Homo sapiens: one gene and its partner. The protein of the gene in region 1 purifies or fractionates together with the protein of each later gene. This does not show direct contact. Each region holds a gene or a part of one and is shown on either strand. Other genes may lie near its edges.

The links. The genes of interacting proteins can lie anywhere in the genome.
Region 2: the proteins of VLDLR (region 1) and SYT11 purify together in Homo sapiens (co-immunoprecipitation; one large-scale study listed by IntAct). This does not show direct contact.

The regions. Positions count from the first base shown.
Region 1 is NC_000009.12:2,649,287-2,652,786, reverse strand, and holds part of VLDLR (very low-density lipoprotein receptor isoform a precursor), read right to left. Parts: exon of another isoform or gene 2,418-3,500; coding exon 2,271-2,417; exon of another isoform or gene 1,373-2,270; coding exon 1,289-1,372; exon of another isoform or gene 914-1,288; coding exon 833-913; exon of another isoform or gene 8-832; coding exon 1-7. UniProt on the Homo sapiens protein: Multifunctional cell surface receptor that binds VLDL and transports it into cells by endocytosis and therefore plays an important role in energy metabolism.
Region 2 is NC_000001.11:155,876,567-155,880,066, reverse strand, and holds part of SYT11 (synaptotagmin-11), read right to left. Parts: intron 1-3,500. UniProt on the Homo sapiens protein: Synaptotagmin family member involved in vesicular and membrane trafficking which does not bind Ca(2+). Inhibits clathrin-mediated and bulk endocytosis, functions to ensure precision in vesicle retrieval.

The DNA of each region.
Region 1 (3,500 bases):
AAGAGCACTGAAAAAAATCAGAGGGTAGCTAAGTGAGCTAAGTCTAGTATTGGAACATACAAGAAAGGTAATAACGTTCAGGAATCCATAATAATTGACATTAGTAAAAATGCCATGTTTTATGGAGCTAGGATAACTAGAAGTTGGAATACACATGGGCCAGGAGCTTGAAACAAGTTCAGCCCAGAGGTAGCTCTGTGCACTGGAGCTGGACTAGCCACATCCATCCAGGCAAGGGCAGGGTCCTCGGTCCCACCTTAGGCTCACCAAATTAAAATTGCAGAAGGTTCTGGAGAGCTATTCAGGTGGTCCTGGCGTGTTAGCTAAGCTTGGGTCTCTTCATTTAGGACAAAGGTTTTTATAGCAAAGTCCTTAGAATTTGCGTGTCTCGTTTAGAGGTCCTTTTCCATAGGTTTGAAAATTCTTAACTGCTTTTAATTTATCCTCAACAAGTCCTGTAACTCTTAGCATTTAAGCATTTGTGCATCTCCTCTGTATGAAGCATTACACACATTTCAAAGGGGGAACAGAACAGTACACTAGTTAAAGAGACTTATTATAAAAGGGGATAAGCCAGGTTAACAGTGCGGAAGTAGAAAGCATTAACCGTTGAACACTTATCATTGCCAGTTACTGTGCCAAAGGTACAACTGAAGAGAAAGATATGGGCCTTAATTTAGTGTATTATGTGGGGGAGAAAGCGAACGTAATTCAGTGTCATAAATGCTAGACAGCATAAAGGCCCATGAAAGGGGTAGCTCCAGATGAACAAAAAATCTTCATCTGGTATCTAAGAAGTTCTTGAACCCAGACTTGTAGGAAATCTACTTACAGAGAGGAAGAATGGCCCATGCGGCAGAAGTCCCTTTTGGGGGAACACTGACCTCTGATACTGCTGTGGTCACATTGATCCCTACAGAGGAATAAAAGGAATCAGTTTAGAAGGATCTGTATTCAGACTTAGAAATTTACCCATCAGGTAAGGAGCCAAAACCTTTGCATCCAATATTGATGTTCAGTATCTACAACAATTGAACACCAGGAACAACTCTGGCTTAGAAGTATTTGAGTCACATGCTGTAGTAGCCATTTCACTGACAGTTCTCTACTAGAAACCTTTAAGATCAGTCAGGAAAAGATATGCAAGTTTTAAGTCTTTGGTGTTTAAATATAGGTTACCAATTGGGGCAGAAATAGTAGTTAAAGGCTGCATTAATTATTTAAGCTGTAGATACAAAGAGTGTGGCTGTTAGTTGAGATTAACAGTTTGCAGTACTGAACTCAATACCTCCAGGAACTAGTCCACTAGTTGCTGAAATTTCTGTTGTGTTCGTATCTTTTGTCTCACTGTAAGTCACAGTAGTTGCAGTACCTGAATTATAAAAACCAAGAACCTGGTTAATGCCAGGGTTCCAGCATGGCTAGCTGTTTTGTCCAGACAAGCCATGTAAAAGGTTATTTTAAAACCAGGTAAAATAGACAAACCACTGCTGAACTAAGTTGTACAGCTGATGTGTCAACATTGAAATAGCAATCTTCATGCAAAAAAGAGATACATGAAACTTTGGGAAGGACAGTCGGTGTTTGGAATTTGACAATTCAAAATGATGGACAACCACATTTTATCCCTCTAAACAACATCCCATGTTCCTGGAAACTACGAGAAATGTTCTCAAGATGCTCTGGTATACCAGGCATACCAGACTGTCTTGCAACTAATTTCTTGGTAAACTGAGCTAATCCCTGCCTGACCATGAATTACGCTAATAAAAACCTCATCAGCCTCACCATACAAGCTCCTTGATCACACAAATGACTTTAATTTGCCACTTAATCAAAAGTTAAGAACAGAAGACTAAATGCAAATTCAGCCTAAGTGTTATTTTAGGGTAGCGTCACCCACTGAGGCAATGAGGTTTCTGTAACCATGGCCTTCCTTAAGCATAATTTCTGTCCTCCTCCTTTTGAGGAAAAATGTTAAGGCCTCATTTAATTACCTGCAAGTTGGCTAGCTCAGTGCTGTTAAGGGACTAGGTACAAATTAGTGTAAGGTATGTTGACACTTTAGTCTCCTATAAACTCATTTAATGTTGAAATGGGTTAAAGTCAGTTCTAAAGAAATGACATGATAACCCGGCATACAATAGCAGATATCTTCTCAAATCTATTCAAAGAATTAGCTAAGACAGAATTCTTAAAAATCCAAGCTTGTGTCTTATTATATTGCTTGTTGTAGGTTCTACTTGTGGTTGAAACACAAAATGCCTTACTTTGACAGTCTCGGCCATTTTCCTCTACATTGTACCCACTGGGACAGGAACAGGTATATTTTGGAGAGTGATCATTAATCTGTGGTGCTGGCAGGCATAGGTATTCACATCCTCCATTCTCCATGTCTTCTTCACACCAATTTTTACCTAGTCAGGAAAAAAAATACCATTAAAATGGGTATTCCGGTGCCTAGTATATATAAAGCCTTGTTCTACATGTTGAAGACCTGAGTCCTTGCCCCCAAGAGCTTAAACTTGTCTACTCTGCTAATCCTTCAAGTGAGAACAGTATCAAGGAAGAATAAGTATACAGGTACAGGCAGCATGCTCTAAGGACACCAGATAAGGGACCTCTTCGAGATAGACTGTAAAAGTTATGCCTTTAAGAGACAGATGCCAAAAGAGGAGGTGGGGAAGGGAGGTGAGGGACCAGGACTGGCTCTCACTATTTGCCCGAGGTTTAGCGTGAAGGCTCAGAGAAAGGAGACTAGGCATGTTCTCCTGGTTTTCTCTTGACTTGCTCCAACAAAGTGGAAGGAAACTCAGCCTTAGGAAGGTTTGAAGGCTTTATTTAGATAGAACCAGCCAAGTGTTTTCAGCAGGAGATAATATAACCCGATGTGTTTGAGAATCTACACAATCCTATATCAGGTGTGTCACAGGGGGAAAGTAGGTGTTATGAGTTGAATGGTGTTCCTCCCTAAAATTCATATAATGAAGTCCTAGTACCTCAGAATGTGATCTTATTTGGAGATATTGAGGATAGGATATTTACAGAGGTAATCAAGTTAAAATGAGGTCATTAAGGTGGGCTCTAATCCAATATGACTGTTATTACAGCTCACGCCTGTAATTCCGGCACTTTAGGAGGCCGAGGCAGGCAGATTACTTTGGGTCAGGAGTTCGAGACCAGTCTGGCCAACATGGTGAAACCCCATCTCTACTAAAGATACAAAGTTTAGCTGGACGTGGTGGCTCACTCCTGTAGTCCCAGCTACTCGGGAGGCTGAGGCAGGAGAATTGCTTGAACACAGGAGGCGGAGGTTGCAGTGAGCCGAGATTGTGCCACTGCACTCCAGCCTGGGTGACAGAGCAAGAGTCAGTCTCCAAAAAACAGAAAAAGAAAGAAAGCAAGAAAGCTGGACACGAGCATATACAGAGGGACGATGATGTGAAGAGACAAAGGGGGAAGAGCACCATCAACAGACCAAGAAGAGGCCTGGAACAGAC
Region 2 (3,500 bases), on another chromosome or scaffold:
GTGTGTGCCACCACATCTGGCTAATTTTTCTTTTTTCTATACACAGAGTCTCACTGTGTAGCCCAGGCTGGTCTTGAATTCCTGGTCTCAAGTGATCCTCCCGCCTCAGCCTCCCAAAATGCTGGGATTACAGGCATAAGCCACCATGCCCAGTTGCTATTTCTTATCTGTGACCTTGGACAAGTTACTCAACATCTCTGTACTTCAGTTTCCTCACCTATAAAATGTGGGTGAAAGGTTGTACCTACCACATAGCATTATCAGAAGGATTAAATAAGTTAAAATTTGTAAACTGCAATGGTGCCCAGCACATAGTGCGCACTATAGAAGTGCATCCTCTCATTTGGTTCTTATCCTTTAAAAAGTTCTGAAGACTGTACAGTGGGAGGTAGGAGAACTGGGTTTGAATCTTAACCTTGCCACTTACTCACCACATGTCCTTGGGCAAGTCCCTGAACCTGTCCCTGCATTTCACAGGGTGAATATCCACACCTGCTCTGCCCACCCCAATGTGCACTCCAGTGTATCTTCTCCAGCCAAGTCAGCTTCCTCCCCAGCACCCTGATCTTTGTTTCTCCATCTTTAAATGTGATGCTAGGCTCCATTTTGAGCTTGAAAAAACCTCTAGTCCTCCAATAACTTTTTTTTTGAGACAGAGGCTCGCTCTTGTCGCCCAGGCTGGAGTGCAGTGGCGTGATCTCGGCTCACTGCAACCTCTGCCTCCCAGGTTCAAGTGATTCTCCTGTCTCAGCCTCCAGAGTAGCTGGGATTACAGGTGCCCGCCACCATGCCCGGCTAATTTTTGTATTCTTAGTAAAGACAGGATTTCACCATGTTGGCCAGGCTGGTCTCGAACTCCTGACCTCAAGTGATCTGTCTACCTCGGCCTCCCAAAGTGCTGGGATTACAAGCGTGAGCCACCGTGCCTGGCCCCTCCAAGAACATTTTAAAGAACATTTTCATAGGCACTGCATGCCAGGTTTTGAGGATCCAGAGCTGATGGGACTCAGTTGTTGCTCCCAAGGAGCTTACCACTTAGTAGAAGAGTCAGAGAAGTAAATAAACCTGTGCGGGACTTGTCAGAGAAATGAGAAGCCTGTCTAAGTGCTCTGGGCACCTAGAGCTGGGAGATTCAGGGGAGGCTTTTTTAATTAATTAATTAATTAATTTATTTATTTATTTTTTAATTTTATTTTTTGAGACAGAGTCTCTCGCTCTGTCACCCAGGCTGGAGTGTAGTGGCGAGACCTCGGCTCACTGCAACCTCCGCCTCCCAGGTTCATGCCATTCTCCTGCCTCATCCTCCTGAGTAGCTGGGACTACAGGCGCCCGCCACCACGCCCGGCTAATTTTTTTTGTATTTTTAGTAGAGACGGGGCTTCACCATGTTAGCCAGGATGGTCTTGATCTCCTGACCTCATGATCCGCCCGTCTCGGCCTCCCAAAGTGCTGGGATTACAGGCGTGAGCCACCGCGCCCGGCCATGGAGATTCAGGGAAGGCTTTACCAGCTGATGCCTGGACTGAGTTGATGGGGGTACAAAACCATGAAGCAATGGGCAGAGGGATGATCATATCAGGCAGATTGACAGAAATGGCTGGTACAAAGGAGTTGGGCCTGAAAAGGTAAGCTGTGTTCAGAGAATGGTTGAGAGGTGAATATGCCTGAAGTGGGGGTGGCTGATAGGAGGGGTAGGTCAGGAACCTGGAAAGGTGGGCAAGGCTAGAGTAAAGGGCTGTTGGGACACTACCAAAGAGCAGAGTCAGCAGCACCCATACAAGAGGAGGTTGGTGAGTATAGGAGTGGCAAAGCTGTCATTTTTTTGAGTCAGGGTCTCACTCTGTTGCCCAGGCTGAAGGACAGTGGTGAGATCTCGGCTTTCTGCAACCTCCACCTCCTGGGCTCAGGAGATCCTCCCACCTCAGCATCCCAGGTAGCTGGGACTACAGGTGTGCACCAACATGCCAGGCTACATTTTGTATTTTTTGTAAAGACAGGGTCTCACTATGTTGCCCAGGCTGATCTCAAATTCCTGGGGTCAAGCAATCCGCCCACCTTGGCCTCCCAAACTGCTGGGATTGCAGGTGTAAGCCACCATGCCTGGCCAGTTGTCATCATTTTATTAAAATTATTATTATTTCAGAGAAAGGTGGAAAATGAGCTAAAGTCGAGGAAGACCAACATCAGAAAGCTCAGTTAAGAGGCCGCTATAGCCGGGAGCAGTGGCTCATGCCTGTAATCCTAGCACTTTGGGAGGCCGAGGCAGGCGGATCACGAGTTCAGGAGATCGAGACCATCCTGGCTAACACGGTGAAACCTGGTATCTACTAAAAAAATACAAAAAAATTAGCCGGGCGTGGTGACTGGCGCCTGTAGTCCCAGCAACTGGGGAGGCTGCGGCAGGAGAATGGCGTGAACCCGGGAGGCGGAGCTTGCAGTGAGCCGAGATTGCGCCACTGCACTCCGGCCTGGGCAACAGAGCGAGACTCTGTCTCAAAAAAAAAAAAAAAAAATTAGCTGGGCGCAGTGGCGTGTGCCTATAGAGCCAGCTACTTGGGAGGACTGATTGAGCCCCGGAGATCGAAGCTGCAGTGAGCTGTGTTTGAGCCACTGCACTTCAGCCTTGGTGACAGAGTGAGACCCTGTCAAAAAGAAGCTGCTGTGGCTGGGCGCAGTGGCTCACGACTCTATTCCCAGCACTTTGAGAGGTCAAGGCAGGTGGATCACCTGAGGTCAGGAGTTCGAGACCAGCCTGGCCAACATGGTGAAACCTCATCTCTACTAGAAATAGAAAAATTAGGCCGGGCGCAGTGGCTCACACCTGTAATCCCAGCAATTTGGGAGGCTGAGGTGGGCGGATCACGAGGTCAGGAGATTGAGACCATCCTGGCTAACAAGGTGAAACCCTGTCTCTACTAAAAATACAAAAAAATTAGCCAAGCATGGTGGCGGGTGCCTGTAGTCCCAGCTACTTAGGAGGCTGAGGCAGGAGAATGGCGTGAACCCGGGAGGCAGAGCTTGCAGTGAGCCGAGATTGTAGTCACTGCACTCCAGCTTGGGCAACAGAGCAAGACTCCGTCTCAGGAAAAAAAAAAAAAAAAAGAAATAGAAAAATTAGCCGGGTGTGGTGGCGGGCGCCTGTAACCCCAGCTACTCAGGAGGCTGAGGCAGGAGAATCGCTTGAACCAAGGAGGTGGAGGTTGAGGTGAACCTTGATCACGCCACTGCACTCCAGCCTGGGCGACAGAGTGAGACTCCATCTCAAAAAAGCAGACTTCGTTGTTCTGTAGCAACGTGCTACAGAAGAAATGATTGGGACTGGAACTAGGGCTGTGGCAGAGGAGATGGACATGGAGGTAAAATATGTCTCAGGAAGAATTGTCAGGGGTTTTTAGGCTTGGGCAGTTAATTGGCTGTGAAGCGTAGGGAAGAGGGAGGAAAGGGTGGACTATTTCTTGTGTTTTTAGCTTTAGAAAGTGGGGATGAGGCTGGGATAAAGA